2 linked regions of the Homo sapiens genome follow. Each later gene encodes a partner of the first gene's protein in a complex. Each region holds a gene or a part of one and is shown on either strand. Other genes may lie near its edges. A codon is read from its position in the direction of its gene.

Region 1 (16,131 bases):
CAGGTGATCCGCCCACCTCAGCCTCTCAAAGTGCTGGGATTACAGGTGTGAGTCACTGTGCCCGGCCTATTTATAATTTATTTAGTACTCCATTTAGTAAACTGATATAACTAATAAAACTTTGAAAATCAACTTTTTAAACAGTTAAGCATTTATAATAAAATAACATTACTTAATTGATACCATAATTACCACTTAAAATTTGGATTTTTTTGAATGTCTCATGCTTTAAGCAGAACACAGGACATATATCAATTCAATAATTTTTAAATACTTAATTTCTTCTTAAACTTATCCTAAAATATACATATAATTAGTTTAATTTTATTTTTCTGTTTATCTACCTAGTCTTATTGTTCTAGGGAGTTAGGCTTGTAATATATAATGTTCTTCAGATTGAAGAAATACTATAATATCATTTTAAGATTATGGTAATATTTGCAGATAAAAAAGAGGAAGAGCGGCCGGGTGTGGTGGCTCATGCCTGTAATCCTAGCACTTTGGGAGGCCGAGGCGGGCCTGAGCTCGGGAGTTTGAGACCAGCCTGGACAACACAGTGAAACCCCGTCTCTACTAAAATACAAAAGAAATTAGCCAGGTGTGGCAGCATGCGCCTGTAGTCCCAGCTACTCGGGAGGCTGAGGCAAGAGAATTGCTTGAACCCGGGAGGCGAAGGTTGTGGTGAGCCGAGATCGCACCACTGCACTCCAGCCTGGGAGACAGAGCAACACAACACTCCATCTCAAAAAAAAAAAAAAAAAAAAAAAAAGGAAGAGCATTTTCTTAGGACAATAGAGACTTCTCTTTTAAATGCTATTTGTGTAAATGTATGGGGTACAAGTGTAATTTTGTTACATGGGTGGATTGCATAGTGAGGAAGTCAGGGCTTTTAGGGTATCCATCACCTGAATAATGTACACTCTACACATTAATTTCTTAATATCCACCCGCCTCCCACAGCGCCATCCTTCTAACTCTCTCTGATCTATCATTCCACACTTTATGTCCACTATACATTATTTGGCTCCCACTTATAAGTGGGAATATTTGAAATTTGTCTTTCTGCATGTGAGTTGTTTCACTTAAGATAATGGCCTCCAGTTCCATCCATGTTGCTGCAAAAGACATGATTTTATTCTTTCTCCTGGCTGAATAGTATTTCATTGCATATATATACCACATTTCTTTATCCAGTCGTCTGTTGATGAACACTTATGTTGATTCAGTATCTTTTCTATTGTGAATAGTGCTGTTATAAACACACAAATGCAGGTATCTTTTTGATACACTGATTTCTTTTCCTTTGGATTGATTCCTAGCAGTGGGAGTACTAGATCAAATGGTAGCTCTATTCTTAGTTCTCTGATAAATAGTCATAGACAGTAGAGATTTCAAGGGTAGGTTAGTAATATTGACTTTGGTTAGAGCTTAGGTCTTGGATCCTTTTCCAAAATATTTCAAGTTTGAGTGCTAGTCATCTTCCTAAAAGTTAATACTATCTTACTGTATCACTAAGACTTTTTAGATTTATGTCTTTATTAGAGGTTATATCAACTTCCAACCTTGTGTTTCCCTGTAAAATTGTGTTTCCTGTAAGTCTCTCTTGACCTATATCGTGCAATCCATTTCCTTGACACCATTCTATTACCACTATTTAATAACATATGTCTCTTTGGCATGTATCTCATTATAATTATTAGTGCACTCAGAAATTTCATTTCCTAAAAGTTTCTATCGTATCTCTCAAGTTACCTCTACTTTGATAATTAATTCATCATCTTGGATCACATTGTTGAGCCACCTTTTTTCTTAGTTATTTTGCATAACCACTTGTTACACAAAGAAGGAATATTTTAATATTTAGAGTTTGAGACTCTAAACATTAAAAAGAAAAAAGAGCTGGGTGGGGTGGGAGAAGACTGAGGAAGAACAGAGAGTGAAATTATGTGGATTGATACGCAACTCTGCCCGTTACCTGGCTGTTATGAGGAACCACTGGTAATATTCATTCCTTCCTGCTCTTGGATTGCTTACTGTTTTTTATATATCCATTCAATCAGATGACATTTGCTGAGCACTTATCCTGTGCTAAGTAGTTTTCTAAGTTTGGAGATGATAGTGCTGTACAGACCAACAAAATCTTTCCTCTGATAAGGTTTATATGACATGTTAAGGCTGAAAAACATTTAAATAAATACTTTAGCAGTGATACATGCAGTAAAGAAAAGTAGTATGAACAGAAAATATGATAAGAGCAAGAAGGTTGTTTTCGATACAGTGGTTGGAGAAAGTGTCACAGACCAATTGAAAATGGAAGGAAAATCTAAAGAAATGAAGGAGAATGTTACACAAATTTCTTTGAAGGTAACAGCAAACTCTGATGCTCTGGGGTAGAAGTGAGGTAGACTTACTCCAGACACCTCAAAAAGCCCTGCTGCTGTTGCCCAGAAGGGGATTGGCAGAGCGGCAGTGACGAGACTGGAACTATGGATCGAGCCCTGGAGAGGTCTCAGGAGGCTAAATAGGTAAATAGGATGAGGGACCATGTGGAGGACCAAAGAGTGACCTTATCCAATCAGGCTAATGTGTGAAGATGGGACTGCTGGGAGGAGCAAACGTGAAATCAGGGACACCAGTTAGGACCATAGCTGAAGAAGCTGAGGAAGTGGCTGGATCTTTTTAGTAAGTTCTGATGGTTAGAGTCATCTGCATTTATTAATGATCACAGATATGGAGTAAGGAAAAGAGAATGGAGTGAGTGTTGATATCATTTACTGAGATGAGGAAAACAGGAAGAAATCAGATTGGAAAGAGAGTGAGAGTTCTGATTTTTATATATTAAGCTTGGGACTGCCTATTAGACATCCAAGTTGGTATCAGCCAATGATGTCAGCCTATGGACATACAAATCTAGACTGTATGGAAGAAGTCAAGAATTAAAATACAAATTTAGAAGTTTTCAGTATATTGTAGGTATTTAAAATAATGACTTGGTTAAGATTATGTATGAGGCCAGTGTAGATATAAAAGAGAAGGCCGAAGGCAGACCCCTGGGATATTCTAAAATTTAGAGTTTAAGATGAACAAAAAAGACCTGGGGGAGAAAAAAAGACTGAGGAGGAACGGAGAGTGAAATGAAAGGAAAATCACAAGTGCATGGTGAATCCTGGAAGTCAAGTGAGGAAAAGAGTTCAAAGATGATTCCTTAAGTTTCAGGAATAATCTACCAAGTAAAATTATGCTCAGGAGTGTTTGGCCTATTTCTGGTTTGCTGTACTTACTTCTGTTTCTTACACTTACACAAATAAGCATATACCCATATTTTAAAAACAGATTTCTACTTAAAATTAAATAAAAATATTCACATATATGAAACTCTTGTCCTTACTCATGAAAAGGAAGAAAAATTAAACATATTCTTGTTGCCTACCCTCCTTTTATAATAAAACTACCTTTTGCACCTGTTAACTTTTCTCTTTTGAGTTTCATTGCAGACACATGGCCTTTCATAAACAACTCTTTTCTTTTAACTGTGGTAATGATAATGATCATTATATGAGAGTCACCTTGCTAAAACTTCGCCAGTGTTATTTCATTTAATCTGGCTTCTTTGTACTTTCAGAATTGCCCGATATTCTTGAAAACTTTCGTACTCTCTGGCAACAACACTATGTTTCAGAAACATTCTAACTTTCAGTTGCCTTAAATATTCGAATTGGCTAGCCATCTAGGAATCCTCATTACATTCAGAGGAGAATAAAAATAGAGACCAAAAATGCTGTGCTGGGTGTAAACATCAGTGTTGGCATGGTGCAAAGTTGTTGAGGTTGCTGTTGTGCCACCTTTAGTAATAGTAAAACAGGAAAAAGGTTTTAATTTACAGTTTTGGATTCCCATTGATTTTATTTTCCCTTCAGCCTGTTGTGATGCTCTATCATAGCTGTCTTACCATATTTGCTTTCTACTGCATTGAAAGTCCCACTTACAAATGGACATCCTGATGCCTAGAGTGGTGAAGTTATTTTCACATCAGCACATTGCCACATATATCTGAGGTACCACTAGTTCATCTTATCTGGTGCTGCTTCTGCATCTCAGGAAATGGGAAAAAAGCATCTTTTTTTCAAAGAAGCATCTTTGGGGTTACAGAGACCAGGAGTGTATGTTTTTCTGCCCTCTCCAACCTGCTGTGCTTCTCTTTCTCTTGCTACTATGATAAATGTCTTGCTTGTGCAGGACAGATGGTGAAATGCAGCAAAAATTCAGCCAACTTCTTTTTTTTCTCTTTTTTTTTTTTGGGCAGAGTTTTGCTCTTGTCACCCAGGCTGGAGTGCAATGGCACAAATTCAGCTCCCTGGAACCTCTGCCTCCCGGGTTCAAGCAATTCTCCTGCCCCAGCCTCCTGAGTAGCTGGGATTACAGGCGTGCACCACCACGCCTGGCTAATTTTTGTATTTTTAGTAGAGACGGGGTTTCACCATGTTGGCCAGGACGGTCTCGAACTCCTGACCTCAGGTGATCCACCTGCCTCGGCCTCCGAAAGTAAATTCAGCCAACTTCTATCTGAAGATGCCCTATCTTTGCGATCTTTATCCTCCACCGGATTGGGGATTTCCTATTCCAGGTGGTTCTCACCTTCTCCTATGCCCATCTATCTTCAGCGCTATAGCTCTTCCTTCCTTTACTAGAAAAGAGATGCTTTGAGACCAGATTTTAAAAACATAAAAAGTCCCATCTCTTCATCTAAAATGATTTTTCTGAAGGCTGTCTTCACCTGCCCCTCAGATTTGGGTATATAAAAAAGCTAGGAAGTTTTCTGCATTGCTCAGTATCCCAACAGTGATTACAAAGTACAGATTGTTGAGTGCCACTCCAACTTTCCAAATTAGAATTTCTGGAAATGGAAACTAGAAATCTAAAGTTTTAGAAACTTCCTCAAGTGGCTCTAGAACTTAAGAACTATTGGCTGTAAGCTCTGTATTCTCCAGTCATTTTCCACCGAGGAAAAGCTCTAAAATTACTGCCAGATGGAGTAGTACTGGTGGTGCTTGTGCTAGTGTTGGTTTTGTGGTGGGGAAGTTAAGTGCATGACAGAAAGGTTTGTGGAGCAGCCTTTCTCTTTGAAGGAAAGATGTAAATGATACATGGCGGCGGAATTTTTCCTATCCATGGTGCTGCTCATAGATACTGAAGTAATAAAAACATGAAAGAGAGGCTATTTTCTATGTGGCACAATAAACAATTTTGGAAATTATCAAGAATGTGTCAGATTAATATTGTTGTAAATTGTATTAAATTAGATGAGTAGCTTGAAGCACGTATATTTAATCTGCACGTTCCTGGTTCATATATTGGTTTTCTACTCAAGTCCTTAAAATAATGAAAGGAAGTGATGATTACTAAACTATGTTACCTACAAGCTCTCTCATATCAGTGATTATGTTGATTAGTTCTCAGATAAAGTATAGTATTTACAAAGAAGAATTTGGGAGTTTAGATGCTCTTTCTCTGAAATACCTTAATTTAACATTTATTTAAATCTATATCAAATAAACTGCATGCACCTCTCTGAACTTCTATATGAAAAATTCTGAAGATAAAATATGTATAAAACACCTGAGGAGACAATCCTATAATTTTTAATAATGACATGTCCTCTGTTAACTCCAACTTATATATAATGATCTCATACACTGTGAGCAAATATTAATAGTTCATTAATATAGGTAATATTTATATAGATAATTTATATACATACACTATAAATTATAAATACTATTACAATACATTGGTTATATGAATATAACAGAGAATATGATGTATAAATAAATTTAATAAAATGCCAAACACAAAACATACGGTATAGTAATTGTAAGATTAATTTTTTGTAAATATTGAGTGAATGTGTGAGGTAAATGTTGAGTAAAAAAAAAATCATACAATTTTTAAAATAAAGTAACTACTTGTTACCTGTCAGTCTTAACAGGCAGGCTACTCAAGTGAAAACTGACCAGTTGAGCTTTAGGAAATATACTTAACATGTGATAGAGAAAGAAGTTCAGAAACAGAACACCAGGGAAGAGATTTGGCTCTGTTCACTCTCCCTACATAGGCTAAAGTAGACACGGGAATCCCAGGGTACAGTGGAAGTGGGGTGCTGTCTGAAATTATCAAGATGCCAAGCATGGCTGAAGTACAGATTCCTCTGACCTGGAGAAGAGAAAGCACGAAGACCTCTTGTCAAGCCTGTACAGCACCATAATGACCTCCTGGCCCAGTCTCTAAGCCACTTAAGGAGCTGCCACCAACCACTAGGAGCAGAGATAACTTCCCCTATGTGGGAGCAGGGAAAGCAACAGCAGAGCTTATCTCTCCCTCTTGCCCCCCACATCTCCAGTCCTTCCTTCTAGTTCTCAATCCCTCCCATGGCACCCCACTCAGAGCTGTATGAGGCACCCCAGTCACTGGTGTTAAGTGCAGGCTCTAAAGTCAGACAGCTCCAATTAAAGTCACCTCCTACCATTTAGATAATCAGCGCCTAGTTTGTTCCCATTGTAAAATTATGATGAGGATTAAATGAAGAGATACAAAAGTTCTCGGTATTGCACTTGGCACCAAGTAGTATTTTGTTGCTACAGAGCACTTAGGTGTATTTCTTCAAGTTCTAATGCAATGTGGTTGTCAGTGGATGCTTTACTGAATGCTTGGACGCTCACTGGCTTTACTGATGACTGCTACCTGACCAAACATAGTAATTTGGTAAATAAAACAAAGTGATAGATAGATGTAAGTAACTTCATGCCCTTTATACATCTGGAAGTGACTTGGACTTTAATATTTAAATACCACATTAAACGAGGCATTTGCGACTGTTAAGAATTGAATCAATAGCTCTGCCTAGGATTGCAACCATTGAATTTTACCTTCATTGTGAATATGGCTTAACTGGCTTAATTCCAGCTGATAATTCCTTTGTGTGAAGAAATCGCAGGCCAATAGCACATTTAAAAGTCCTTGCACACTTTCAAATTATAATATACTACCCAATTTAATCTGTTCTACAACACAAGTGTTATCCTTTACCAATTATTATAGATGGCCAACATTGTATATGGAGATTATTCAAGTTTATATGTTAGATTATAAAAATTATAATAAGGCATACTGTTTACTTTTTTTTTTTTTTTTTTTTTTTTTTTTGAGGCGGAGTCTTGCTTTGTCTCCCAGGCTGGAGTGCAGTGGCGCAATCTCGGCTCACTGCAAGCTCCGCCCCCCGGGTTCACGCCATTCTCCTGCCTCTGCCCCCCGAAGTAGCTGGGACTACAGGCGCCCACCACCACGCCCGGCTGATTTTTTGTATTTTTAGTAGAGACGGGGTTTCACCGTGTTAACCAAGATGGTCTCGATCCCCTGACCTTGTGATCCGCCCGCCTCGGCCTCCCAAAGTGCTGGGATTACAGGCGTGAGCCACCGCGCCTGGCTTGTTTACTTTAACTATATGTGAATTCAATGACTCTCTAAATGGGAAATGCATCTGAACTTCCTTCCATTATACTACAGTTGCTAGCTACAGTTGTCTGAAAAAGCCCTTAACAGGGACACAATTTCCACAGTGAAATGTGACCTAAGGCAGAGGTTCTCCAACCTAGCCATATATTATATATAGTAGCACAAATTTGGAGATTTAATTTTAGAAGTATTTTTTAAATTGTCTGGTGGACTATTCCAGACCCAGTACATTAGAATCGGGGGAGGAGGGGAAGTAGGTGTCAGCATTATTTAAAAGCACCTCACGAGATTGCAATGTACAACCACAGTTGAGAACCACAATCTAGAACTAGAGCTCAGCATATAACTTAAGAGGAGTGAAACAGAGAGATTAGCACTAATTAGGGTTTTCTTTATGTTGTGATCAGAAAAATAAAGATTTGAGAATATTTTTAAAGGATGATTCTTCAGAGAAATTAAAGAACATTTCAGGATAGAAACATATTCTGAAATGTCATGATGAAGATCTTCTAGAAAGGAACTGCTTTGGATGGAGAGTGTCTCATATTTCTTCATTACAATTTTCAGGAGAAACTTAGAGCCATCCAAGTGGACAGCAATCCTAGGCCTGCATATGAAATCAAATCTGACCTCTCCTCAAACAGTCCCTCGATTAATAGATGAAATTGTCATAAACCCTCATTACAATAGGCGAAGAAAGGACAACGACATTGCCATGATGCATCTGGAATTTAAAGTGAATTACACAGGTAAAAAAAAAAAATCACTCTTAGTCATCTTATCTGCCAAAATTAATTCAAAACTAGATTTCAAATATTATCAATGTCAATGCATTAATTCATAAAAGCTAGATAATTTGTTACATAAATCATTGGAACTTAAATGGGATTAGGGAGTAGAGAGAAATATATTAAATTTCTTTCATCAGGATGTTTAAATTCAACTTTCCAGAAAGAACCAGTAGAATAAAACTCTCTGAGCCCTGTATAACAGTAAACTCAAAGGAGAAGCTCAGATAAATAGATGATGTTATTATGCATGCCCTCTCTATTTTTCATGTAAAAGAAAGGTAGGTTCATCTACCAAAAAGCAGAGTAAGACATAAACTGAGAGAAGAACACATGTTCTGTGGGGAAAGTGAGCAAGAATTAAGTTATTCATAGAAGGAAGTTTGGTTTTTTGTTGTTTTGTTGTTTTTTTTTTTTTTTTTTTTGAGACGGAGTCTCGCTCTGTTGCCCAGGCTGGAGTGCAGTGGCACAGTCTTGGCTCGCTGCAACCTCTGCCTCCCAGGTTCAAGCAATTCTCCTGTCTCAGCCTCCCAGGTAGACTACGGGTGCATGCCATGATGCCCAGCTAATTTTTTTTCTTGTATTTTTAGTAGAGATGGGGTTTCACCATGTTGGCCAGGATGATCTCGATCTCTTGACCTTGTGATCCACCCACCTTGCCCTCCCAAAGTGCTGGGATTACAGGCGTGAGCCACCGTGCCCGGCCTTCATAGGATGAAGTTTTTAATGGAGATTCGATAATATTATCTGAGTGACAAATGAAGGACTTCCTCCAAATGCCTGGAAAATGTGCAAGAAATCCCCTGATAAAGTGAATTTTATCATGAAGGGCTCTGCTCAATTCTGACTTTTATTCCTAAGTCTTTTTCAGTGCCCGGTTAGGAGAAAGTGCTGCCATCTCTGTGTTTTCATGGGGTTTGATTTATACATGCATTACAGCACTTATCAAAAGCAGACTATTGCTACGGTTAGTTGTATATCCCTGTCCTTAAGGATAAGCACTGTGTCTTATTCATTTTTGTGTCTGCCCTAGGTCTTACATGCAGTGGGTGCTTAAGGGTGCCAGTTGGCTTGTAAATTGATGCAAGAAGGGCTTTAAAAGTCAGTGACCAATGTCAATGCTTCCATAATTGCCCTGTAAAACAATCTCCTAAAAGCTTTTTTAACATGGTGATAATTGGGGAAAATAAAAAAGTCTCAGAACATTTGCCCAAATTTCTATTAATTGATGCTGAAAATCATCCTTACCATAATTTTCAGAGAACTGGCACCACTTTCTATTGAGCACCATAATTTTATTTAAAAATAAAATATAAATGATTACCTCCAGAACTAAGACATTTTTTACACTATAAAAGAGAAATGAGGGCCGGGTGCGGTGGCTCACACCTGTAATCCCAGCACTTTGGGAGGCCGAGGTGGGCAGATCACGAGGTCAGGAAATCGAGACCATCCTGGCTAACACAGTGAAACGCCATCTCTACTAAAAAAAAAAAAATACAAAAAAATTAGCCAGGCGTGGTGGCGGGCGCCTGTAGTCCCAGCTACTCGGGAAGCTGAGGCAGGAGAATGGCGTGAACCTGGGAGGTGGAGCTTGCAGTGAGCTGAGATCGCACCACTGCACTCCAGCCTGGGCGACCGAGTGAGACTCCGTCTCAAAAAAAAAAAAAAAAAAAAAAAAAAAAAAAAGAGTAACGAGGAGACTAGTAAAAGACCCTAAAGGGCCACCAGTGGTAGCCGATCTATTGTCAAAAAGTGCTGCTCTGAAATGCCTATTTCCCCTAAGACCGATGTCTAAAATTTTTACAGGTAGGATTAAAAAAAAAAATACATGTTTTTTAGATTAACTGTTATTGATTTTTAAAACTTGTTAGAAATGCTTGTAAATCTGTTCTTTCTTTTTCTTCGTTTGTTCGTTTTGCTGTTTGCTTGTTTTTCCAGATTACATACAACCTATTTGTTTACCGGAAGAAAATCAAGTTTTTCCTCCAGGAAGAAATTGTTCTATTGCTGGTTGGGGGACGGTTGTATATCAAGGTAAATTATCAGACTCAAAAAAAAAAAAAAAAAAAAAAACCTTACTGGTGAAAAACAGACTGTCATAATATCCTGTGAATGCTTTCAACATCTTTGCAATTCTTATATAACAGTTTTTTCAATATCTCCTAAAAGTACCGTCAAGCATGTACATATATATATTTAGAGTTGTGTATCTGTAGAGCTTTCAAAGATATACTTGCAGAGTTTTTATATTTGTAGGATTTTGTTTGTTTGTTTTTGAGACGGAGTCTCGCAATGTGGCCCGGGCTGGAGTGCAGTGGCGCCATCTTGACACACTGCAAACTCCACCTCCCGGGTTCACGCCATTCTCCTGTCTCAGCCTCCCAAAGTAGCTGGGACCACAGGCGCCTGCCACCATGCCTGGCTAATTTTTTTTGTATTTTTAGTAGAAACGGGGTTTCACCATGTTGGTCAGGATGGTCTCGATCTCCTGACCTCGTGATCCGCCTGCCTTAGCCTCCCAAAGTGCTGGGATTATAGTCGTGAGCCACCGCGCCCAGCCTATATATTTGTAGAGTTTTTAAAAATTTCTTCAGATTGCATAGAAGATATTATAAAACTATATTCTTTTGACGGGGAATTCAAGTGTCCCCAACCTCAATATCTAGTTTTAGTATTATAAACACTCTGATAAACTTAAAAGCCTCATTAAAATGAATATAAACTAGGGTTACAAAAATTTATTTTTGTAAAGCACATGATAAAGTCTCATCAAAAGCCAAATTATTACCTGTCACATTTTCCAAACTAATAAAACTATCTTTATTTATAATGTGAAGGCCTCACACTCAACATTTTCTTAAAATGAGAATGGAATCTCTTGTAACTTGAACATGCTAATTCTGCTTACTGACAAGAGGGCTCAGATTTGACATGAATCTTACATTGTATCCATCAGTTGATACACCATTCACCCCCAGCATCAACTGCATGTTTTCCAAACACAGAAATCATACATATTAAAAATAATCATACTTTTTTTTGAAAAGTATTCTCGTACTTCATACCCTCTAAATGTAACCACAAGGCTCATTGGCTGTGGAATTTCTAATAGGAGTGCCCTAGCTGGGACAGAGTTTTAACCACTCATAAATAATAAAGCACCAGAAAAGGCTCTGTAGTCTGATAAGAGAACCTGATCCCTGCAGTCACAACAAATTATAGCCATGATGTTTAAAAGTCCTAAATGTATTTAAGATGAAAATGCAGAAAATCTTGTGGAAAGGTAGAGGGTCTCAGAATCAAAGTACTCACATTTAAAATGTCGTTACCTATTATAAGAGAAAGCACAAAGTTCTAAGTCAAATGCTTTTCTGATAACTCCTACAAAAGTTCTTCACAGCAATGACACTGTATTGCTGAAAATGCCTCATGTCTGCTGTCCATCAAGTATATTGAAGTCAAAGACTGTATATTCATATATTTCTCCCTCTTGAAAAATATTATGATTTATTAAACTTCAAATTTAAACAGTAAAAATGATTCCTAGATAGATATTTTCTCTTTTCAGACTTCAAGCTAAAAGACATTTTATGACCACAGTGTAGGCTCTTCAAAAACAAATTAACCAATAACAAAATTTGAAACTCTTTATTTCATAGGAAGTTTTTTTTGTTTTTGGATTTTTTTTAAAAGCTGAGTAAATGTGACTTACGTTTACTTATTGTTACTAAAGATATATGTCTGATTAACTTAAGAAAGTCTCTAAGAGTGGTATGGAGCCAGGAAATAAACTGTATCTGAGATCAATTTCATTTAGGAATAAACAGCTAGATCATGTTTAAATATTTCTTGAGTGATGGTAAGTTTCACGTAGTTTATGAACTTTGCTTTATGACTTCCATCTACTTAATTTCATAAAATCCCAGTTTTCTGGCCGGGTGCGGTGGCTCATGCCTGTAAACCCAACACTTTGGGAGGCTGAGCCGGGCAGATCACCTGAGGTCAGGAGTTTGAGACCAGCCTGGCCAACATGGTGAAACCCCGTCTCTACTTAAAATACAAAAAAAAAATTAGCCAGGCGTGGTGGTACACACCTGTAATCCCAGGCTACTCGGGAGGCTGAGGCAGGAGAATCACTTGAACCCAGGAGGCGGAGGTTGCAGTGAGCCGAGATTGCGCCATTGCACTCCAGCCTGGAGGACAAGAGCTAGGCTTCGTCTCAAAAAAAAAAAAAAAAAAAAAGAATCCCAGTTTTCAATCTTTTGAGTATATTATACTAATTGATTAGCTAGGAAAACCATGAACATATTGTTCACTAGGAAGAAATGAGGTGATACTAGTTGGTTAAATCAAGGCAATCAGTAAACAGACACTGCTCAAATGTTCCTTTACCAAACAGTTTTATCATCTACCAAACAAATTTTAAATCATTGACAAGCAGCAGAAGTGGCCTTGGTTTTTATTGTAAAATTAAAGTCTGCCAAGCCATCCTTGATCCTCATAGAATGGATAACAGTGAGATGCCAAATTTTCTCCTCCATTTTAATCTCTGCAATTCATTTTCTTATAGTCCATTGTCAAACTTGAAAAGTTATCTAGTAATGTTTACTCCATGTTCACTGCCATGCTGGTACCTTGAAATTGATCATTGTGGAAGTGTTTACATCAGTAAAATGAGAGGAAGGCCCATGGGGCTTTCATTTTTCTGGAGAGAAAATTGATATACATTTACCAATGCACTACTGAGTCATATATATCTGTTTTGCATTTAACTACACACACACGTGCACGTGTGCACGAACACACTTTTTTTGCTTCCTTCATCTTTTTAGTGCATGAATTAAATTTAGCTAGAAATGAGGTCACATAAATTTTTTCAGCATCAATGGCTGTCAAATGTACTAACTTCTCTTCAACGTTCTGCCTCTCTTGAGGAACAAAATAGAAATGCTAATTATTAGAAAGTGCTTATCATGTACCTTTTCTGGGGCACTAGACACCTGCTTGTTTCACATCTCTCTTGGGATTAGTATTTCAGCAGAGATTCGTACTTCTAGTGGATGAATCATTTTGTAAAAAGCAGGTAAGTACACTCTGCTTTATTTTTTTAAATGCCTCCTTTCTCTTCACCTGGGTATGCATGACAAGCTGATTGCCCCTAGACCAGGGCATAGTTCATCTGAGCTTTGTCCTCTGCTCGATGTGCACCTGCTCACTCACATAGCACCACAAAGAAGCTGAATGCTATTATACAGAAGCGAGCACCTCCTCAGGTGCCAAATGAAAAGCACTTCTGGATTTCTGAGCTGTTGCTAATTTCCATGAATGAAACACTTTGTGTTGGGGAGCGTTTTCCCCCATGAGCAATCCTGTAACTGTTTAAAATCACAGAAGATGCCCAAAGACCATCTAGTCTAATCCATCGCTCCTACTAGCCCTTCGGTAAAAAAGAAGAGCTTTCCTGTTATCCATTTGGCACAATCCACAGATGGGCTTTATTATGTGCTTTAGTGTGCAAGGTTTAGTATTTAGTTCCATTATATATACACAGTACTTGATAATGAGAGTGAAATGTTGGAATAAATAGGACTGATGGTAGTTCATTCAAGGATGCATGTTGATCACTTCTGACTGGCTGGCTGCATTCTCCATTTTGAGCAGGTACTACTGCAAACATATTGCAAGAAGCTGATGTTCCTCTTCTATCAAATGAGAGATGCCAACAGCAGATGCCAGAATATAACATTACTGAAAATATGATATGTGCAGGCTATGAAGAAGGAGGAATAGATTCTTGTCAGGTAAAGATGTAAAACTGCTCACTGTACCTTTTCAGAAAGCACTGGTGTTATAGTTATTTCATTGCTTAACAATAATTAGGGAGTAAAGAAATAAGCTTCTTTCATTTCTCTTTTACAAAACTGTTACTTTTTGCCTATTTGCGTAATCCTCTTGGGTAGACCTGAGCACTGGAAACAAAAATTATTTTTTAAGAAAATAGGTTACAAATCGATGCTTTTGGAGACTAGACATAATACTTGAATGTGTGAGGCAGCCAGCTAAAATGAGCAGTGGACCTGGGTTGAGCCAGAAAGTGTGCACCTTATCTAAAAGCAGTTTCTTTTCAAATTTCCAATTATTTTAAACCCCATGCAAACTTAAAACAAACAAACAAACAAAAACAGGGCTTGAGGGCCAGTTTAGTCTGTGGGCCTCTAAATTTCAACCCTGAATTTAGAATATCATCCAGGCGTGCAGTAACCTGAAGTAATTTCTTGATGAAAACCTGCATAGCCTCGTTAGAGTCAATTTACAGCTAACCAAAGGGGAAGTAAATAACTTAATAGACTGGCATAACCCTGGCTCTGGCTTTTATATTATCGTTTACACTGTATATTAGAAATGTAGTAACTTGAACTTGCTGTAGTGCTAATGTCAATATTGCAATAAATTTGAAGTGTCAATGGCTCTTGACCTGTGTGACATTAGGAAAAAACTCTTACCCACGTAGTAACTTCACTGAAATATCTTGCCACCTAAGAGTAATGTTCCTATTAGCGCCATGAAATCCAAGTACACACAATAAATAAAAAGGGAAGTTCTGCTAGATTTTAGAATTGTAATTAATTTTTAGGTACAGCATGGGGTAGTCATGAAGAGCATGGATTCTATGTTCAGACTACTCTTGTTTGATCCTGGCTTTAACACTTATTGGTGAGACTTTGGGCAAGTGACTTAGGGTTTATGGAGAGGTTTAAATGAGATAACCCATGTAAGGCATCGAGCAATTACTCAAAAATGTTAACAGTTTTTATTATGAAGCTTAGTAAATAAATTTTCTGGCATATTTTCTATATTTGAAAATTAATAACATATCAATGCTTTAATGTCTGCTGGATTAAACCTGCTAGCATTACTGACCAAACGAATAATTACTAAATGAAGAAATAGCAGTTTATGTCATAGGAAAATGGTTTCACTGTGTTAAAGTGTAGCAACTTATTTTATATATTAACACATATATGTCATACTATCAATACATGACGAGCCATCTAAATTGACGCTTATTCAGATCATCTGTATGTAAGTCCTCTAGTTAAATCAATATCTTCAGTTGTGTTAAACTTCCAGCTTAGTTTTACATTTATTCTGCTTTGATAAATGCTTGCAAATTCAAGACAAATAGGATGGCTTTTTTCTTGTTTAAAATTTATCTTCGGGTCTTATACTTCTTTTTTAAAATGAAAAGTGTGCTAAAGGTAAGATATATTGCCACTTAGAAGGAGATCTATAGAATTCTTGCGCAGAAGGGAAATCAGCTGGACAACTTCAATTACAGCTAATGGGGATTGTGTGGCAGACACCTCACGCACTAGGCAGAAAATATGACGGCTGATGCTATTGATTTTAGGGTTACATTAAGTCATTAACTCATGCCAGGTCTCTGAAATCTTATAGCTAGCTCTGATTCTACACAGTCTAAGCATGTTATTCCTTGGTAAGCAAGAAGTCTCCCACATAAGGTAATACCTTGTATAATAAAATGTTATCATAATTGAGTAATTAATACACTAGACTGTCACATGATTTTCTTTGTTCAACTTTAATACTATGTTTTATAACAGGATTAACTGATTAAATAAGAATGCATTCTTTAAAATTGTGAACACGTTATTACTGATACATTATTTAAGTTCTTTGAAGCATCATTTTTTAGCCTTACAGTGGCAAAGAATGTGCCTTATTAGTCATCCACAACTTCTGACTTACCAAAGGCTTGCCTTTTAGTGGTAGTAGTTTGGATTTCAAGGCAACACCAATGGCTGAAGAA
Region 2 (16,110 bases), on another chromosome or scaffold:
CCCAGACTTGGTGCACAGCCAATGCATTGCAGTCTTTGAAGGGAGTTGCAGTCAAGGACCCCCTGGCTGGTCACGCCCTTGTGCATATTTATATTGCCAGCTCAGGATCCTTCATTCTTAGGTCTCTTTTTCTGAGGCCTATGTAGAGGTCTTCTTCAGGTGCCTCTGTCAAGGCCTCCTAATAGGAGAGGAAGAGAGAGCCTTAAAGACACTTTTCTCCACTCTGAGTACCCAGTGAGTTTCCACTTTCTCCTTGCAGGGCTCCCCAACAGTGAGACAACTCCATGTCTGTGCTAATCCAACTAACACTTGACCAGTGCCATTTCCACAGGGAAAAACAGAACAGGGGGAGTCAGTAATTTCTCTGGCTTTAGACTCTTGCTTACACTATTGAAGGAGGTAATTAAAGATTTAACTCTTTCCTTTGGGGCTTGTTGCTTTAATTGGCTCACTACCTGGATGCAATATACCCATGTAACAAACCTGCATGTGTACCCCCTGTATCTAAATAAAAGTTGAAATTTTAAAAAGAATAAATATGTTAAAATGAGTACCTAAGTCCTCAGCACTCTTTTTCAGCTATGCTGAGCTCCTGACACTCTAGAATATTCAAAACAATATTTAGAAAGAACACATTTGGAGTCCTTTCACTGTCTGACCAAGACTTACTATAAACCCACAATAATCAAAGTAATGTGGTACTGGCAAAAGGGCAGACAAATAAAAGATACACATTAAAACCACAATGAGATACCGCTAACCATCCACATACCCACTCAAGTTAAACCACCTGGCAACACCAAATGCTGGCAAAAATTTGGAGTCCCAGAACTCACATATATTGTTGATGAAAGTGGATAATAGTACAACCAATGTGGAAAATGTTCTAATAGTTTCTTATAAAACTAAACCCCTCTGATCATCTACCCCTATGAGCCAGCAATTATACTCCTAAGTATTTACTTAAGAGAAATAAAGGCATAAATCTACAAAAAAAGACTTAAACTGGAATGTTTACAGAAAGTGAATTCATCATTGCCAAAACCTGGAGATATCTTGAACGTCCATCTACAGGAGGCTGGCTAAACAAACGGTAGTATATCTATATGGTTACATATTCCACTGCCACAAAAAGGAATGAAGTACTGATACACACAACTTGAACAAATCTTAAAAATATTATTCTGGGTGAAAGAAGTAAACAAATCTTAAAACCATTATTCTGGGTGAAAGAAACTTTGCACAGAAGAGCGTATGATGTTATTCCATTTATATAAAATTCTAGAAAAGAATAATTTATAATGAAAAAATCAGAACACTAATTGCCTCTAAGGAGTTAGCAGTGGGAAAAACTAAAGGCATGAGAAAACTTTGGAGATAATGGTAATATTCTACAATTTGGTAGGTTACACAGTGTATGCATTTGTCAAAACTTGTTTAACGGTATTCAAGATTTGTGTGTGGTGCTGTATGCAAATTTTACCTGAAAAACACCTTGAACTCCAGTTAATTATACACGTGCTGAACTGCTTAGAAGTGAAGTATGCCTCCAACTGACTTTTCAATGAATTAAAAAATTAGATGGATTGATGGATGAATAGAAGGATGGATAGATGGATAGTTATGTGGTAAAGCAGTAACAGTTTTATCCAGAACCTAGGCGGTGGGTACATGCATGTTCACTGTATAATAGTTTCAGCTTCTATAGATGTTTGAAAATTCTCATAATAAAATGGAAAATAATGGCATGATTCTGTGTATTTTTTAATAAAATCAACTTTGAAATATGCTGATAAGAACCACATTGCTAATTAAAGAAGTGAAGTACAGGAAGGTTTGGGCTGTGTGTTTCTGTGTAAAAGAAGGAGGAGTCAGATTTACATAAACTTGAACAAGCAAGAACTATTATTTCTAAGAACATGTAGCAAAATAATTACAAGACTGTCTCTGGAGAAGGAACTTACCTTTTGTTCTCTGTTATAATTGAATCATTAACCAGGTGCATGTATTAATTCAATAAATAAACACATTAAAATTCAATGAGAGTTTAGTATCCATAACATTCCCCGAGAGAAAAATCTAGAGACCACTGCAGTTTGAAAAGCATGAAAAGGGAGAGGAATATGTTTGCTGTTTTTTGTTTTTTGTTTTCCAAACAAAGAGAATACTGATGAAGAAACAAAGATTTGGAATTTAGTAAAGAATAGGGATCATTTGTTAATTTTCAGAAGCTTTTAGGATAAATAAAATGAAAAAGATGCTGGGTTATTTTGGCATAGAGTTTGATACACTTGACTAAAAGATTTAAAAATATACCTACATGTCAAGAAAAACTGAAGTATTCTATACCTTTTACTACTTCTACTTAGCAGAGTTTATCTTGAGCCACTGTCCGTGGCATGTCCAATAAGTTGTAAAGGCTTCACACACACTCCTCATATGAACAAGTTGCTGAAATATTGTTAAAGTGTCACATTTTGTCCATTATAAGGTAAATTGTTTTTCACAATTCTATTTTCTTTGAAATACGGGTAAGTCCTATAATCAATCTTCACCTTTAATGTGGTAGTACTAAACACCACCCAAAAGTAACAATTAGATATTTAATAGAACATCTTATAATAGAGAGAATCTCAGAATCAAATAAATAAGATGGGTTAGTTTTTGCAAGCCTGTCTTTCTGGAGTTTCCTAGTATTCTTTAGAGTGTTAGGCCTATCATTCTCAGTTACCCACCAGACTGTACTTTACTAAGGCACAGGCAACTGCAAGAGTCAGACAATACTTGATAGTGTTGATATTGACACTTGAGATTTGTGATCGCATAGGCATTGATTTGAGTCCTGACTCTGTTACTTACTCTTGGATTATATGAACTTGGATAGGTTATTTAAGGTCTCTAGGTCTTATCTGTAAAATTTCCTAATCCGTAAAAATAGTGTGATGATAATAAATAGCCTAGCCAAAAAAATAGACTTAAATAAATGTATGAAAAGTAGAGTAAGTGCTCAAAAACTTAGCTCTGCTTTTATGCAAAAATAAACTATTTTAAGCAGTTACATGATACGAGAAATCAGCTTGATAATGGAAAAAGATCATACCATTGTGGTCAAGTTTTACACAAACATGATCTGTTTCGTGGCCTAGACTGAGTTGAATTAGAATAGAAGAAACCATATTACAAGTATTCAGGAATTAAGCAAAGACAAAAAAAAATAGTTATGACTGTGATAACTGAAACAAGGGAAGAGATATAAGAGACAATGCATTTAATTTGTGAATTGACAAATAAGGTAGGTGAGGAAAAAAGAGGCTTATGGAATTCTTGAACCTAACATGCAAGAAGAGCAGGGATGCAATTTATTGGGAGAGGGGAATTGAGGAATAAGAGCCCGTTTATTGGTGTGTGTACGTGTTGGGGGAGGAAGGAGTTCAGTTTGGGACAACCATGAAGACCCAGCAGACAGCTGAAATACTGTAATGAAGTTCCCTTATATTCTAACATATTACTTTTAGTTCTTTGAAGTCAATTCTGCACCCCACTTTTTGCTCTACACCCAGACAGTAGCACAGATTGGTGTTCAGTAATGACAGATGGAAAAGTGATGGGAGAATGGTGGTGAGTGGCTGGTGCATGCTGTGAGACTTGTGCATGAAGACTCATCCTGAGTGAAGAGCCACACGGTTCCACCAGGGGGAAGACTGATTTTTGCATATCATGCAGAAACTCAACCACCTGTTAGAGGAGGGAAACAGAGTGGGAAGGAACTACGCTGTAGGAAGGAAAGATGAACTTGAGTTTCACTTCTTAGTGCCTTTTCTCAGGGGAGAGGCCATCACTTGAAGATGCTGAGTCTTCTGCTCCTTCTCCTGGGACTAGGTATGAGCCTTGTCTTTTGAGGAGTCTGGGGTTAATGTTAACACTGGGTGGAAAGGTGGAAAGACTTTCTCTCCAGAGAGTCTGAAGCCACCAGACAGAAGATGAAGGGGATATGTTAGATTAAAGAACCATAACAGAGTAATTGTTGGCACAATAAAAAGGAGGCAGTTCCCTGGGGTCCTTTGGGAGCTGAGGTGGTATTGGAGAGATAAAGCAGAGACCTTCCTGCCTGGGGAGATGTCTGACCCCAAGCTTGTCGGTCCTCATGAATATCTCTCTGGAACTAGGCTCTGTGTTCAGTGCTGTCATCTCTCAAAAGCCAAGCAGGGATATCTGTCAACGTGGAACCTCCCTGACGATCCAGTGTCAAGTCGATAGCCAAGTCACCATGATGTTCTGGTACCGTCAGCAACCTGGACAGAGCCTGACACTGATCGCAACTGCAAATCAGGGCTCTGAGGCCACATATGAGAGTGGATTTGTCATTGACAAGTTTCCCATCAGCCGCCCAAACCTAACATTCTCAACTCTGACTGTGAGCAACATGAGCCCTGAAGACAGCAGCATATATCTCTGCAGCGTTGAAGACACAGTGCGGGGCACAGATCAAAGATCTGAGCAAGAACCTCAGCTCTCTCCTACCCAGCTCCTCTCACACGAGCCTGAAGGCCCTGCCAAGGTGGGACAGAAGGAGGAAACCACAGCTTTTGGGCAGACACAGCTGTTTCTGTGTTTGTGGGTGGGCATGGGTATGAATGGATAGACTGGGGATGAGGAGAGCATCTGTAGGACTAGCTGGAGCGTTCTATCCACAGGCAGGAAGAGTGGCTCCTGGAAAGCTGAGGGTAAAATTTCTTCTAGAAGGGTGCTCAGAAATACCCAATAAAAACAATCAGATACAGTTTCCTTCAAGTGGCGGGGTCAGTAATAGCCTTTAACTGTTTTATCTCAAGGCTCTTTTTAGCTGGTTTTCTATCATAATATATTTTGGAAGAACTTTAGTCATCTTGAAACAAAGCTGGTACATTATATTAATGACATCTGGTTGTTCTCAGTGAATAGGAATGATAAAGCCCTCTAGATGCTTCAATATGACAATATGACACATGCATCCCAGGCCAATATAAAATCTGCAAAGTTCAGGAACCTTCTATACTGGTGAGTTTTGGAGTGGTCCAGATGTAAGAAGTAAGCTGCTGCACCTTAGATCATGTACCACGGAGAAAGAGGTGCAATGCTTAGTCTTTGGACTTTGAATTAAACTTTGGATATACTGCATTTGATTGTGCTACTCTATCCCATTTACTATGTAATCTGTAAAGCTGGGGCCAGTGCAAGAGAGGGTTCTGTGGCAGAAGAAGCCCATGATGAAAGCTTCCTGCTGCTTGGGCCATGGACTAAGCAGACCCAGTTGTTCTTGAAGAGCCTATGGTAGATACTGATGCCCTGTGGAGCTCCTGACATTCCCCAATACGAGAATCACAAGGCAGTGTGGAACAGGTTTGCTGTGCCCTGATTTGCACTTCAGACCATTGCATCTTGGGCTATACTTTTGTTGCTTTCCAGATCCCAGAGAGAAAGAATGCTCACACACACAAATTACATGAGGAGTGTTTATTACTTACATACAGGCAGCAAGGGAAAACAGAGGCCTAAGATTCAGGGAAAGCCAGTCCCACTAGGCTCAGGAAAGCTGCCCAGGGTGGATGAAATCTTGTCTGTGCCTTCCCTACTTGCACTGCCACTGAGGGACCTCAGAGAGCAGCCACCCTGGGTTTTATATCTTAGAGCAACTTGACATGCTTGGCAAAGCATTGAAGGACATTCTATTTCTAGAAGGGACTGGAACAGAGCCCTGGCTGTTCTGGCCAGTTCCTCCTTATCTCAGGATGTTACAGTCCCAGAACATTGTACAGTTATTTTTGAGAACTACAAGCAAGAAATAGGGGAGTACTGAGTTTGTCCAAGGCCACCTGGAGAATTGCCCTGCAGACAGGTGCAGAGTTTTGGTGTAAAGCCATACTCTTACCGGCCAACGATCCCCTTTCTTTTGAAAAGTTGCTCCTGGCTCTATAATGGATGCCTCATAATGGCATTCAGAACAAGGTATTATCTGATCTGCAAAACTGTAAATTTGGCTGTGCCCAGAGCATTCTGTTATTAAATGGAAAATACATAATCAAGACCATACTTAAGCACAGCTGGAAAAAGGCACGATTCAATTTCAAGAGCACATCTCAGAGTCTCATGCTACCCACTCATACTTTTCTCCTCTTACCTTCAAACCACACCCAAGTTTCATGGAAATTCCATATTTCCAGTTGAGAAACATGAGCTTATTTTTTTGATGGGTCTTCACATTATTCTGGAAGGATCATTACAGTCTAACCAAGTATGGTTCTGAAAGGTAGTGGTGAAGGGAAATCTTCTCGGGGCCAAAACTTAAATTGGTATACCTGATTGTTGTCCACATTTTATTGAAGAAGAGATGGCCAGAAGTATAGCTATATCTTATGTTCAATTTTCTTTCATACTATCATCTAGTCTCCTTACCTATTCAGTCATATTTTTCTTCTTTTTGCTTCTCTATGCTACAATCTGGGTAATTTCTTTAAAACTACTGTTTAGTTTACTAATTCACACCTCAGCTCCAGTAAGCCTCTAATTTAATCTTTCAACTGACTTTGTTCATCTAAATTATATTAATTTTTATTTCTAGAAAATCCACTTGGGTCATTTACAAATATGAGTGGACATTTTTGAAAGCATCTTGTTCCTTGTGTATTTTAAAATTATTTTCTTTTTATAAGTATATTAAGCATCTACTGGGAATTATTATCTGACAATGCCAGCATTTGATGCCTTTTTGCATCTGGCTTTCAGTGGTCTGCTGGCTCTCACTCAGGGTAGCCTATTTCCTTGTACATTATGTAAGTTAATGTGAATTCATCTTTCAGAATTCTTTAAATACTGGAGTAAAAGTGGGTTTTCTAGGAAAATTCATGTTTGCCTCTGTCAAGAAATTGGGGCGCTACAGACCTAATATCATTTTATTTTATAATTCTCAGTATATATCTTCTTGGTCATAGAATGTCTATCTCAAACCCCAATGGGCTGACTGTTCAGTGACCATGAATATTCAGAGGAAATTTTTTAAAATCCTTCACCCAAAGCCAAGACCAAGACAAATAATATTCTTTGTTAATTGCTTCTAGGATTAGTTTTCTAGCTCATCCTTTCACTAACTGTGTATCTCTTTGTGTACCTCACTTTAAAAAGCAGTGATTCCTGTCTAGTTTCTGGTCCATGTAAGGTCTCATGGGCCTTCTCCAGTTTCCATGTGTACTAATTCTCCAGGTCACAGGAATGCACATGTATACCTGTTTTATCTCATGGGCTCAGTGCTAGCTTACCTTCCTGGCCCATGCTCCCATTACCATAGGAAGTTGACAAATTTACCTACAGTGAAGCCTTGGATTATGAAGCACCTTCCTATATTACAAAATTGCCTCTTTAAAAGCAGTAAAGCACTGTGGTTAGGAACTTGAACTTTGTCAAGTGACAGACCTAAGTTTAAAACTTGGTTCTTCTGCTTTAACACTAGGTGTAACCTTAACAAGTTACACAATTTCTCCATGCCTTAATTTCTCCATAGAAAATAAGAATAATAGTGAGTTTTTAAATGTAGGTTTTTTAAAATAAGAAAGTGATACAATTATCTGTATAAAAAGCACATAGAGACAAAATATGCAATTAGTGTAGTTGCTACCTAAACGTATTTCTCACTATAAAAACATATTTTACCACTGGCAATTCCTTCCTCAAGAATAAGTATGGCCCTCTCTCAGAAAATTTTATCATTACAATTGTTTCTCTTTTAGCTATTTTAATTAAATAAAAAATTTGTGGTATTATAAAATATGCATATTATCAAAATAAAAAAGTCAAAATCACTCAGTTTAATAAAATTAGATCATACAATATGTAGTTTTAGAATTTATTCCCTTAACCCAACAATATTTCATGAATATCATTTCATGTCAAAAATATTTTACATTAACTTTAATAAGAATAGTTCGATATACTGATGACCATCCTTCATACAATCAAAACCCATGACAAGGTATATATCCATAGGCTAGATGACAGGGTTATTTAATTTTAAATAGCAATTGTTTGTGTGCGTTGAATTATTTCTGTTGCAGACTCAGAAGGAAATCATGAAAGCCCTAAGTCTACCTGCAGATGGCTGGTTCTTTTTTATTCAGGTGTTAACTTAAATGCCACCTCCCCAAAGAGACCTTTCCTGACCACTCTACGTAACAGCACTTCAGCAGTCATGCCATATTATCACTTTATCCTATTTTAGTAATATGTACTCATCATTTACTGAAAGTGATGTATGTGCATCCCATTTCTATACCTCCTCATATGTGCATAAATGCATGCACATGCACACATGAATGCACTGAAAACAAGAACCTTTTCTGTCTTCTTCGTTGCTGCTTCCAAATAGCCTAGAAGAACTCTTGGAATATCACTCCAGGAATTCAATAAATATTTGTGAGTAAATAAATACATTTCAAAGATAAGAGGAAAATTTATACAGCTGCAGTGGATTTCCCTGGTGGAAAACTCTACAAAGGCATTTGAGTTTAGATAATCTAAGCCCATAAGAAAATTAACTAGATTATTCTAACAGGAAAGGAATAAGCACTTCAAACTTTATATTTTTTATTCTTGTTTTAAATTTATGTTTTAGTTGCGGGGAGGATACAAAAAGATTAAAGGACACAAAATTACAGCTAGATAGGAGGAATAAGTTCCAGTGTTTTACAGAACTGTAGGAGGACTACAGATAACAAGCATTGTATTTGAATAGAAAGGTCCATATGTCATGTGCCAACCCCGTTCTGCTGCCTTACCCAAGACTGGGAAATGGAACAGATGATATGGGTTCTATAGAGAGGCAAAGTGCAGAACCTGCTCAAACACAGTGGCCCTGGGGTGGAAAGTTCTCAATTGGAATTGTGTTGGTGCCTGTGTGGATGGAGCATTCAATTCTGAGCCTTAGGAGCCTTTTGAAGGCCCTCCTGGCCAAGATGATCTTGAGGAAATGACTGACCCATTGGCTGCCTTCCAAATGGATGACACAGTCTAGACTTTTATAAACTACATGAGTAGAAGGAACCCAGTTGACTGGATTTATCACCAAACCTAGCTTGTGAGCCTCAGTCTAGAGCTAGCATAATTTAGAAAAATAAATGCATACATCATATATTAAACTCTGAGTATCATGAAACAGATCCTAGATGTTACAATAATAAGAACCTACATGGGTGTTTCTCCTGCACTCTGTCCTGGCTTTCTTCTGCTTCTTGTCTAAGGGAGCCTGGACTCACTTAAGCAGCTCTAATAGGCCAAACAAGAGAGTGGTCAAGGAGTGGCTGAAATGTGAACAGAAAGACTCACCATTATATTAGAGCAATCAATCTATCCTTAAAATACTGTGGGTTTAGTGTCAAGTGCTAGAGGCTTCCCCATTTACCCATACATGGAAGCCTGAAGAATAAACAGAACTATAAACTTCCCTCTGGGCATAAAACTTGCATGTCTTCCATGGCTTCAAGCTGGGGAGCAGCTGGGCAGGCAGAAGGAGGGGCAAGAGGCAGTCAAGAGGAGGGGCGGGAGGCAGGCGGGGAGGAATGGGCTACTCCGTTTAGCTGATCAGCCTTGACCAGTTCATGCTCTGGGACTCCATCTTACAAGTCAGACTTTTCCGAGTCACACAGAGCACTCCCTTCACTCTCCAGATTCAATGATTCCTGGGATGATATAGTAACGAAAATAATTCCTTATTGGATAAAGAGAAATTGTGCTGTGCGGGAGATAAGTAGCTTAGAAAAAAAAATGGATGAGGAGAGGAGCTGGGAGTTTGGGGGTAAGACAGCCTAAAATCTGACAGTCTGGTTGGGGAACGATAAAAGATACTGGAACCCAAGGAGGAGATCAGTAAGAATGTAGGAGAAAGATCTGGTGGGATTTGGAGAAGAAAGTGTTAAAAAATAAAATTGGAATATGACAGTTTGCAGACTACTAGGTCTGAAAGACGCAACTCTGTAGCAACATGAAGGGGAACAAACTTTGTCTGAATAGGGAAGTTTCTAGTATGATCTCTGCTTTCCTTAGACAAGTAACCCTGGAGAAGACACTTGACCTCTGAGCTTTAGATTGTTCATCTGTAAAAAGGAGAGAACAATATCTGCTGCCTACCACCTCAGTGAGGCTGCACTAAGGATCAGCTCAGAGGAGGCAAAGCAGAATGCCCTATTGCACAGCATGGAGGCCCTAGAGTCGGACCACCATACTTACATCCCATCTTTAAAACCTCCTGGCTGTGTGGCCTTGAGCAAGCCACTTCACCTCCAGAAAGTTCATTTGATCATCTGTAAAATGGGCAATCCCATAGGTGGTTGTGATGATAAAATGAAAAAAACATTTTTAACTTACATGAGTTACATGCTGTAGAGTAAGTTATGTGGTATATAGTAAGCACACAGAAAAGACTCACTGTTATCAAAATTAAAGGAAAGTGGTTTAGTGTGCTAAGCACTAAATACAAGCCAGAGAGATGTCTTGAGAAGTAGACAAAGAAATCTACAATTCAGAATGAACAGTAACAAGAATGACATGTCCTCCAAATTGAGCTTTGGCAGCTGGATCTGAACCTATCCTACACATCTGAGTCTACAGTATGAGGTAACAGTCTCCACCTATAGCTATCTTCTCTGCCTGTAAGGTCATTCCTTTCTGAAGAAAGCTGACCTCAGACTATTTTGCGATCATTTAAGGAAGAGCGCAAAATACTGGAGAAGGCTAGTCTTCAAGCTCTAGATACAGAAAATCCTCAAATTCTTGGGTGTTCCCTTTCAGACTGAGAGTCAGAGCCACAAGCACTGATCCAAAAATCCCCTTTTCCAAAAAAATTTTCCATCTTCTACCAAGGTTCACCTCCCTGTTTAGTGCACACTAGTATCTACAGTTGTTAGAGCAGGAGTCTCTCCTTATCCTCTAAGGCAGGTGTTCTGTGAAGACCCCATGACAAGGGACAAAATGAAACAACATGTTCAGGGACAACAAAGGAAAAGCCCATTTTATCAATGCTCCAAAACCTGGCTACCTCAGGCTTGGCAAGTTATTCGTGAGCAGAGAAGTTTGTCATCTACATGGCAGTCATGGCCTGGATGGGTCTCGAACTGTGGCATGGTAATGCTCTGAGACTAGGTGCCAGGAGAAAGATAAATTCAATCATCCATTTCTACCAGGAAGAAAAGCACCAGGAAGGAATCAGATGTACAGTTTGTCCTCTAGGGACCTCTGTCTTGATCCTCAATAAATCTCCTTTTAGATACCTCCTCTTAGATGAAATTCCCACACTTCACAATGCTCTCCATGGCTTCTGTTGGCCTTATGGTCAGCTCTGCCAAGATCTGTATTCTTGGGCAAGACAGAATCCTTCTGAATCTCAGTCTCTTGCTCTATAAATGGAAACAATTTTGCTCTGCACAAATTACAATTAGCATGTTTGTGGGAAGTTAAAGTGTGAAACTCAGCATAAATGAAAAGTAATGTACCACTGTTGCTTACATGAAAACTCTTGTAAAGTTGTCAGGCACTGTGCACCATCTAAGCATAGCAGTGTTAGGTATGGGCCCATTAGTGATTAGAGGGGGTGCGAGGCGGAGAGGGGGTCTCCAAGCAGTGGGTCTCCTGGCTGTGGGGAAGCTGGCTCAGCAGCCATACCAGGAGCTGAAACCGAAGGTACTCTGTGTGTCCTCTCAACACCATGGGCCCCACTTTGGCATTATTTCCAATTCCCTCTGGTTTCCATTTGCTTCCTCCCTCTAGCCCCCTGGCCAGGTCCGATTTCAACACCAAGTTTCTGAGCTTTTCCCATTTTGTCCACCGTCTCTAGAACATTTCTGCTTCTTTTACCTTTCAAAGAATCCAAACTTGAACTCTACTTACTCCTGCCCATCACCAGCCTGAGCTCAGAGTTGCTGAGAAGGGAAAGCACCCTCATAAGGAAGCTCCTCCTTTCCCTACATCATTAGACTTGAGCACAGACAGCATCTCCATTTCCACACTGCTCTGGCCAGGTTGTGCCTCAGTCAATTACACAACTGTGTCTTAGTAGCCTTGGTAGGGCCCAAATCAGGATATTCTCTAGGAAGATTCACTTTGTACTGAGCCAAGCATAATCTCACTGCATCGAAAATAGAAAATGATCATCTGATCATTCTGGTTCAGACTGTCAGCCCTGAGCAGGTGGGTCAGTTTGCATCACCTGAGTGCAGATTGCAAGGACAACAGTGAGGCTGCATAAAAAGAACCTATGACAGGATGCACATGAGAGAGACAAATGTCTTCACATTGAAGAAGGGGAGGAGTGCGCCATTGGTTTTCCATCCTCCAGAGGCACTGAGAAAGCTCCTACAGAAACTGTGCCCCCTCCTTCTTTGAAACACTTCCCATCCTTAAGCCTTGGTAGGAAGGAGAGAAATCTGGAAGCCCAGAATCCTATGGAATGCTGAGTCTCCCTTCTCCTTACCCCTTAGTGTTGGAATTTTCATTCCCCAAAATCTTGCATTTGACCTTCCTGCACACTGACTGGAGAGAAGCATCTTCATATTCACAGGAATGAGCCTTAGATAAGACTTTGCTCCTCTCATGTGGGCCCCAGGAAACTGAAATCCAAGCTTTTTACCAATGCTTGCCCTTCCTTAAGTACATTAAATACATTCCCAATAGGTGGAAAGATTTGTAAACAGCTAGGCCATTCTCCCTCCTTCTAACCCTCATCTCCAGGGCCTAAGAAAGCCCAGCTCTGTTATCTGGGGCTTGACTTTCCCTGTCTTCCCCATCCCAGTATCCTTGCAGGAAACAGCCGGTCTCGCTCTCTGCTCTCAGAAGGAAAGTTTCCTTATCACCTGTGAATCACAAACCCAGAGAGTGGCCAAACATAGCCAGGCTGATGCAAGACCCTGGGAAGAGGAAAGCTGCAGGTGTGTTTGTGCTGGGAGGAGTGGTGACCCTCACCTCACAGTCACCTCCTCTCTGGATCCTCGTGAGGTATAAAGACGAGTCCTCCACCACCAGTCAGGCACACTCTACCACCATGAATCCACTCCTGATCCTTACCTTTGTGGCAGCTGCTCGTGAGTATCATGCCCTGCCTCAGGCCCCAACCACCCCCCCGTTCCTGGCCGACAAATGCCCTTCCATTCTTACCACCTCTCCTCTTTTGACTGTGCTCTGATATTCCGTTTCCTCCATCTGGCATATCTCCTTCCCATCCTCCTTGGGCTCTTTTTAAGTCTCACCTGTTCACCTTCTCCTTGACTTCACTCCCACCACTGTCATTCATCCATATCCGAGTTGTGGTTGGAGAAGCTGGGAAGGGGGCCAGGTGGGGCTGTCCCACGAAATGAAGCAGCAGGCTTCAGGCTTGGCTCCAACAGCAACAGAATAGCACCACTATAGCTGCTCCTAACCTCGAATGCACCTGGGGAGGTTGAAAAATTACTCATGCCAGAGACTCAGCTCTAGAAATTCTAACTTCAATTGTCTGGGGTAGAGCTTGTGTTCTGGGCTTTTAAGCTTCCCAGGTGATTTTTAATATTTCCAGCCATGCAGCCAAGGTTAAGAATTGCTGTCCTATTGGCCAATAACAAAGTCTACCTTTGTTCTGCCAAAGTGAGCCTGGGGGCTGCCCTCAACTCTGCCCTGACTGCACAGATCTGAGCTATGGGGGAAGGTGGTCATGGCCAGGTCTATGCAGACAGGGGGTTTTCCTAGCTTGGCAAAAGAATCCTGACAATCCAGGGCCCAAATAGCCAGGGGAAGTACACAGGTGATGAATAAAAGAGAGAAGCACTCAGTGGGAGAGACAACCACATCCCAACTCCTATCCCACTGGAAGCATTGTGAGGACATTCCTTGCGACTTCAGCCTGGTGACCCCAGGAGAGCTCGGATCCTCCGCAGGGTACCTAGCTATGTGCCCTGCAGGCACAGAGACTTGGGAGCCACAGGCAGTGATGATCACCAGGGGTGGCAGAGCTCCCTCCCTTGCCTAGCCTCACTGTGCTTGTTAAGGATTTCTAATTAGCAGAAAGCAATCACAGGCTGGGAGCGCCACCCCTAACATGCTATTGACTTGCCTTCTCCCTTCCCATCTCCACTCCAGTTGCTGCCCCCTTTGATGATGATGACAAGATCGTTGGGGGCTACAACTGTGAGGAGAATTCTGTCCCCTACCAGGTGTCCCTGAATTCTGGCTACCACTTCTGTGGTGGCTCCCTCATCAACGAACAGTGGGTGGTATCAGCAGGCCACTGCTACAAGTCGTAAGTGTGGGGCCCCCGACTGCAAAGCTCCCGGCCAGTCTGCCTGGGAGAGCTTGGCTTCAGCCCAGGGAACTACTGAGGTTGGGTAAGATGGATGGGAGAGGTGGTGGAGAAGAAAACTTGTTGGCAGCTGCGGACTCTCCAGAGCAGAGAGTGAACACAAGACAGGAACCTCTCACACCCAGGCAAATCCATGAAACAGCAAGGGTTGTGGTCATAAAAGCAGGCAGGGATGATCTTGGGGTGGTGAGAGCTAGTGAGAAAAGCAGGCAAGTATCTTTTGCTGGTTAGCTACACATTAAAGCCAACTAAGAAAGACTTTTTAAAAATACAGATGCCTTTGTCCTATCCCAGGGCAATTAAGTCAAAATTTTCAGGAAGAGGGTGTGAATATCAGTGAGAATTTTACACTCTACCTCTGCTAACTGTAGAGTGTATAGACAGAGCTGAGAACTGCTGCCTACACCAAGAACTCTCAAACCTGAGTATGCATCAGAACGCCCTGCAGGCTTGTTAAGGCACAAATCACTGGGCCCCTTCCCCAAGGTTCTGATCAGTAGGTGGGGGTAAGGACCAAGAATTCACATTTCTAACAAGTTCCCAGGAGATGCTAATGCTATGGCTACCCTTGGATTAGATTACACAGAAGGGTGGTTCTCACCAGGCCAAGAATGGAGGGAGGAACAGGCACTGTGCACAGTTGGCAAAGGCCTGGGGTGAAGAACGCTGGGAAAACTTCAAGGAGCTCCTTGTGCCCACAGTGCTAGTGACTGTGGAGATTGTGGGAAAGAGTCTGGGGAGGCAGGTTGAGGAGCAGCCTCTGGTGGGATCCCTTTGACTCTTCCCCACCCCACTACCACCAACCTCTGGAGCAGATAGGTCCTGGGTCTCATACCTTCACTGACCCACATCCCTCTGCTGCCCATGCGATATGGCCACACACCCCACCCCATGCCTCCAGAGCTGTCCATGAGCAGAGAGCTTGAGGAACCTGGGGAAGGTGGGATAGGTGCCCTGGCTGTGGGAGAAGGTCTTCACCATGCCTGCCCTGCCCATCAGCCGCATCCAGGTGAGACTGGGAGAGCACAACATCGAAGTCCTGGAGGGGAATGAGCAGTTCATCAATGCAGCCAAGATCATCCGCCACCCCCAATACGACAGGAAGACTCTGAACAATGACATCATGTTAATCAAGCTCTCCTCACGTGCAGTAATCAACGCCCGCGTGTCCACCATCTCTCTGCCCACCGCCCCTCCAGCCACTGGCACGAAGTGCCTCATCTCTGGCTGGGGCAACACTGCGAGCTCTGGCGGTGAGTGGGACCCTTAGTCCTTCTACTTCCCTCCATCCTCACAATTTCCAGAACAAACCATGCCCCTTAACTTGAATCCTCTCACCTCCAGGCTTAAGACACATTTCGAGTGCCCATTACACACAGACTCTGCACTGGGCACCAGAGAGATGCAAACTATCAAGGACTTGGCTCCTAAAATCAAGAGACAGGACAAATGGAGAACTTGATATGATCACATCTTGGGAGGGGTTCAACAATGATCATTCTGGGAACTAAAAGCCAGAGTCTCTTGCCAGGACTTATGTTCTGGAGTCCTCTCCAGGGGCTGTGTTCCTCTTCAGTTTTCCATCCAAGATTATTGTCTCCTTCTCTGGCCTGACCCACATTTCTACTTCCTTTGATCTCTTCCTGATCCTCACAGCCGACTACCCAGACGAGCTGCAGTGCCTGGATGCTCCTGTGCTGAGCCAGGCTAAGTGTGAAGCCTCCTACCCTGGAAAGATTACCAGCAACATGTTCTGTGTGGGC

The links.
Region 2: the proteins of TMPRSS15 (region 1) and PRSS1 are in contact, whole or in part, in a cryo-EM structure (PDB 8ZIV), measured with the Homo sapiens proteins. Residues at the interface, in NP_001414986.1 of Homo sapiens: Tyr276, Thr277, Ile279, Trp297, Glu298, Leu316, Glu318, Asp320, Glu321, Ile369, Gln370, Ser372, Phe374, Pro376, Phe377, Ala389, Gly399, Pro400, Gly401, Gly402, Arg403, Glu405, Glu432, Asn433, Lys485, Ile486, Leu487, Val513, Pro514, Thr515; in NP_002760.1 of Homo sapiens: Phe18 (codon at 14,139), Asp19 (codon at 14,142), Asp20 (codon at 14,145), Asp22 (codon at 14,151), Lys23 (codon at 14,154), Ile24 (codon at 14,157), Val25 (codon at 14,160), Tyr45 (codon at 14,220), His46 (codon at 14,223), Phe47 (codon at 14,226), Cys48 (codon at 14,229), His63 (codon at 14,274), Cys64 (codon at 14,277), Tyr65 (codon at 14,280), Lys66 (codon at 14,283), Arg68 (codon at 15,348), Ala91 (codon at 15,417), Lys92 (codon at 15,420), Arg95 (codon at 15,429), His96 (codon at 15,432), Arg101 (codon at 15,447), Lys102 (codon at 15,450), Leu104 (codon at 15,456), Asn146 (codon at 15,582), Tyr175, Phe188, Leu189, Glu190, Gly191, Gly192.

What each region holds. Positions count from the first base shown.
Region 1 is NC_000021.9:18,273,167-18,289,297, reverse strand, and holds part of TMPRSS15 (enteropeptidase isoform 2 precursor), read left to right. Parts: intron 1-8,076; coding exon 8,077-8,258; intron 8,259-10,238; coding exon 10,239-10,334; intron 10,335-13,961; coding exon 13,962-14,101; intron 14,102-16,131. UniProt on the Homo sapiens protein: Responsible for initiating activation of pancreatic proteolytic proenzymes (trypsin, chymotrypsin and carboxypeptidase A).
Region 2 is NC_000007.14:142,736,428-142,752,537, forward strand, and holds the start of PRSS1 (serine protease 1 preproprotein), read left to right. Parts: upstream 1-13,044; 5' UTR 13,045-13,057; coding exon 13,058-13,097; intron 13,098-14,127; coding exon 14,128-14,287; intron 14,288-15,346; coding exon 15,347-15,600; intron 15,601-16,003; coding exon 16,004-16,110. UniProt on the Homo sapiens protein: Has activity against the synthetic substrates Boc-Phe-Ser-Arg-Mec, Boc-Leu-Thr-Arg-Mec, Boc-Gln-Ala-Arg-Mec and Boc-Val-Pro-Arg-Mec. The single-chain form is more active than the two-chain form against all of these substrates.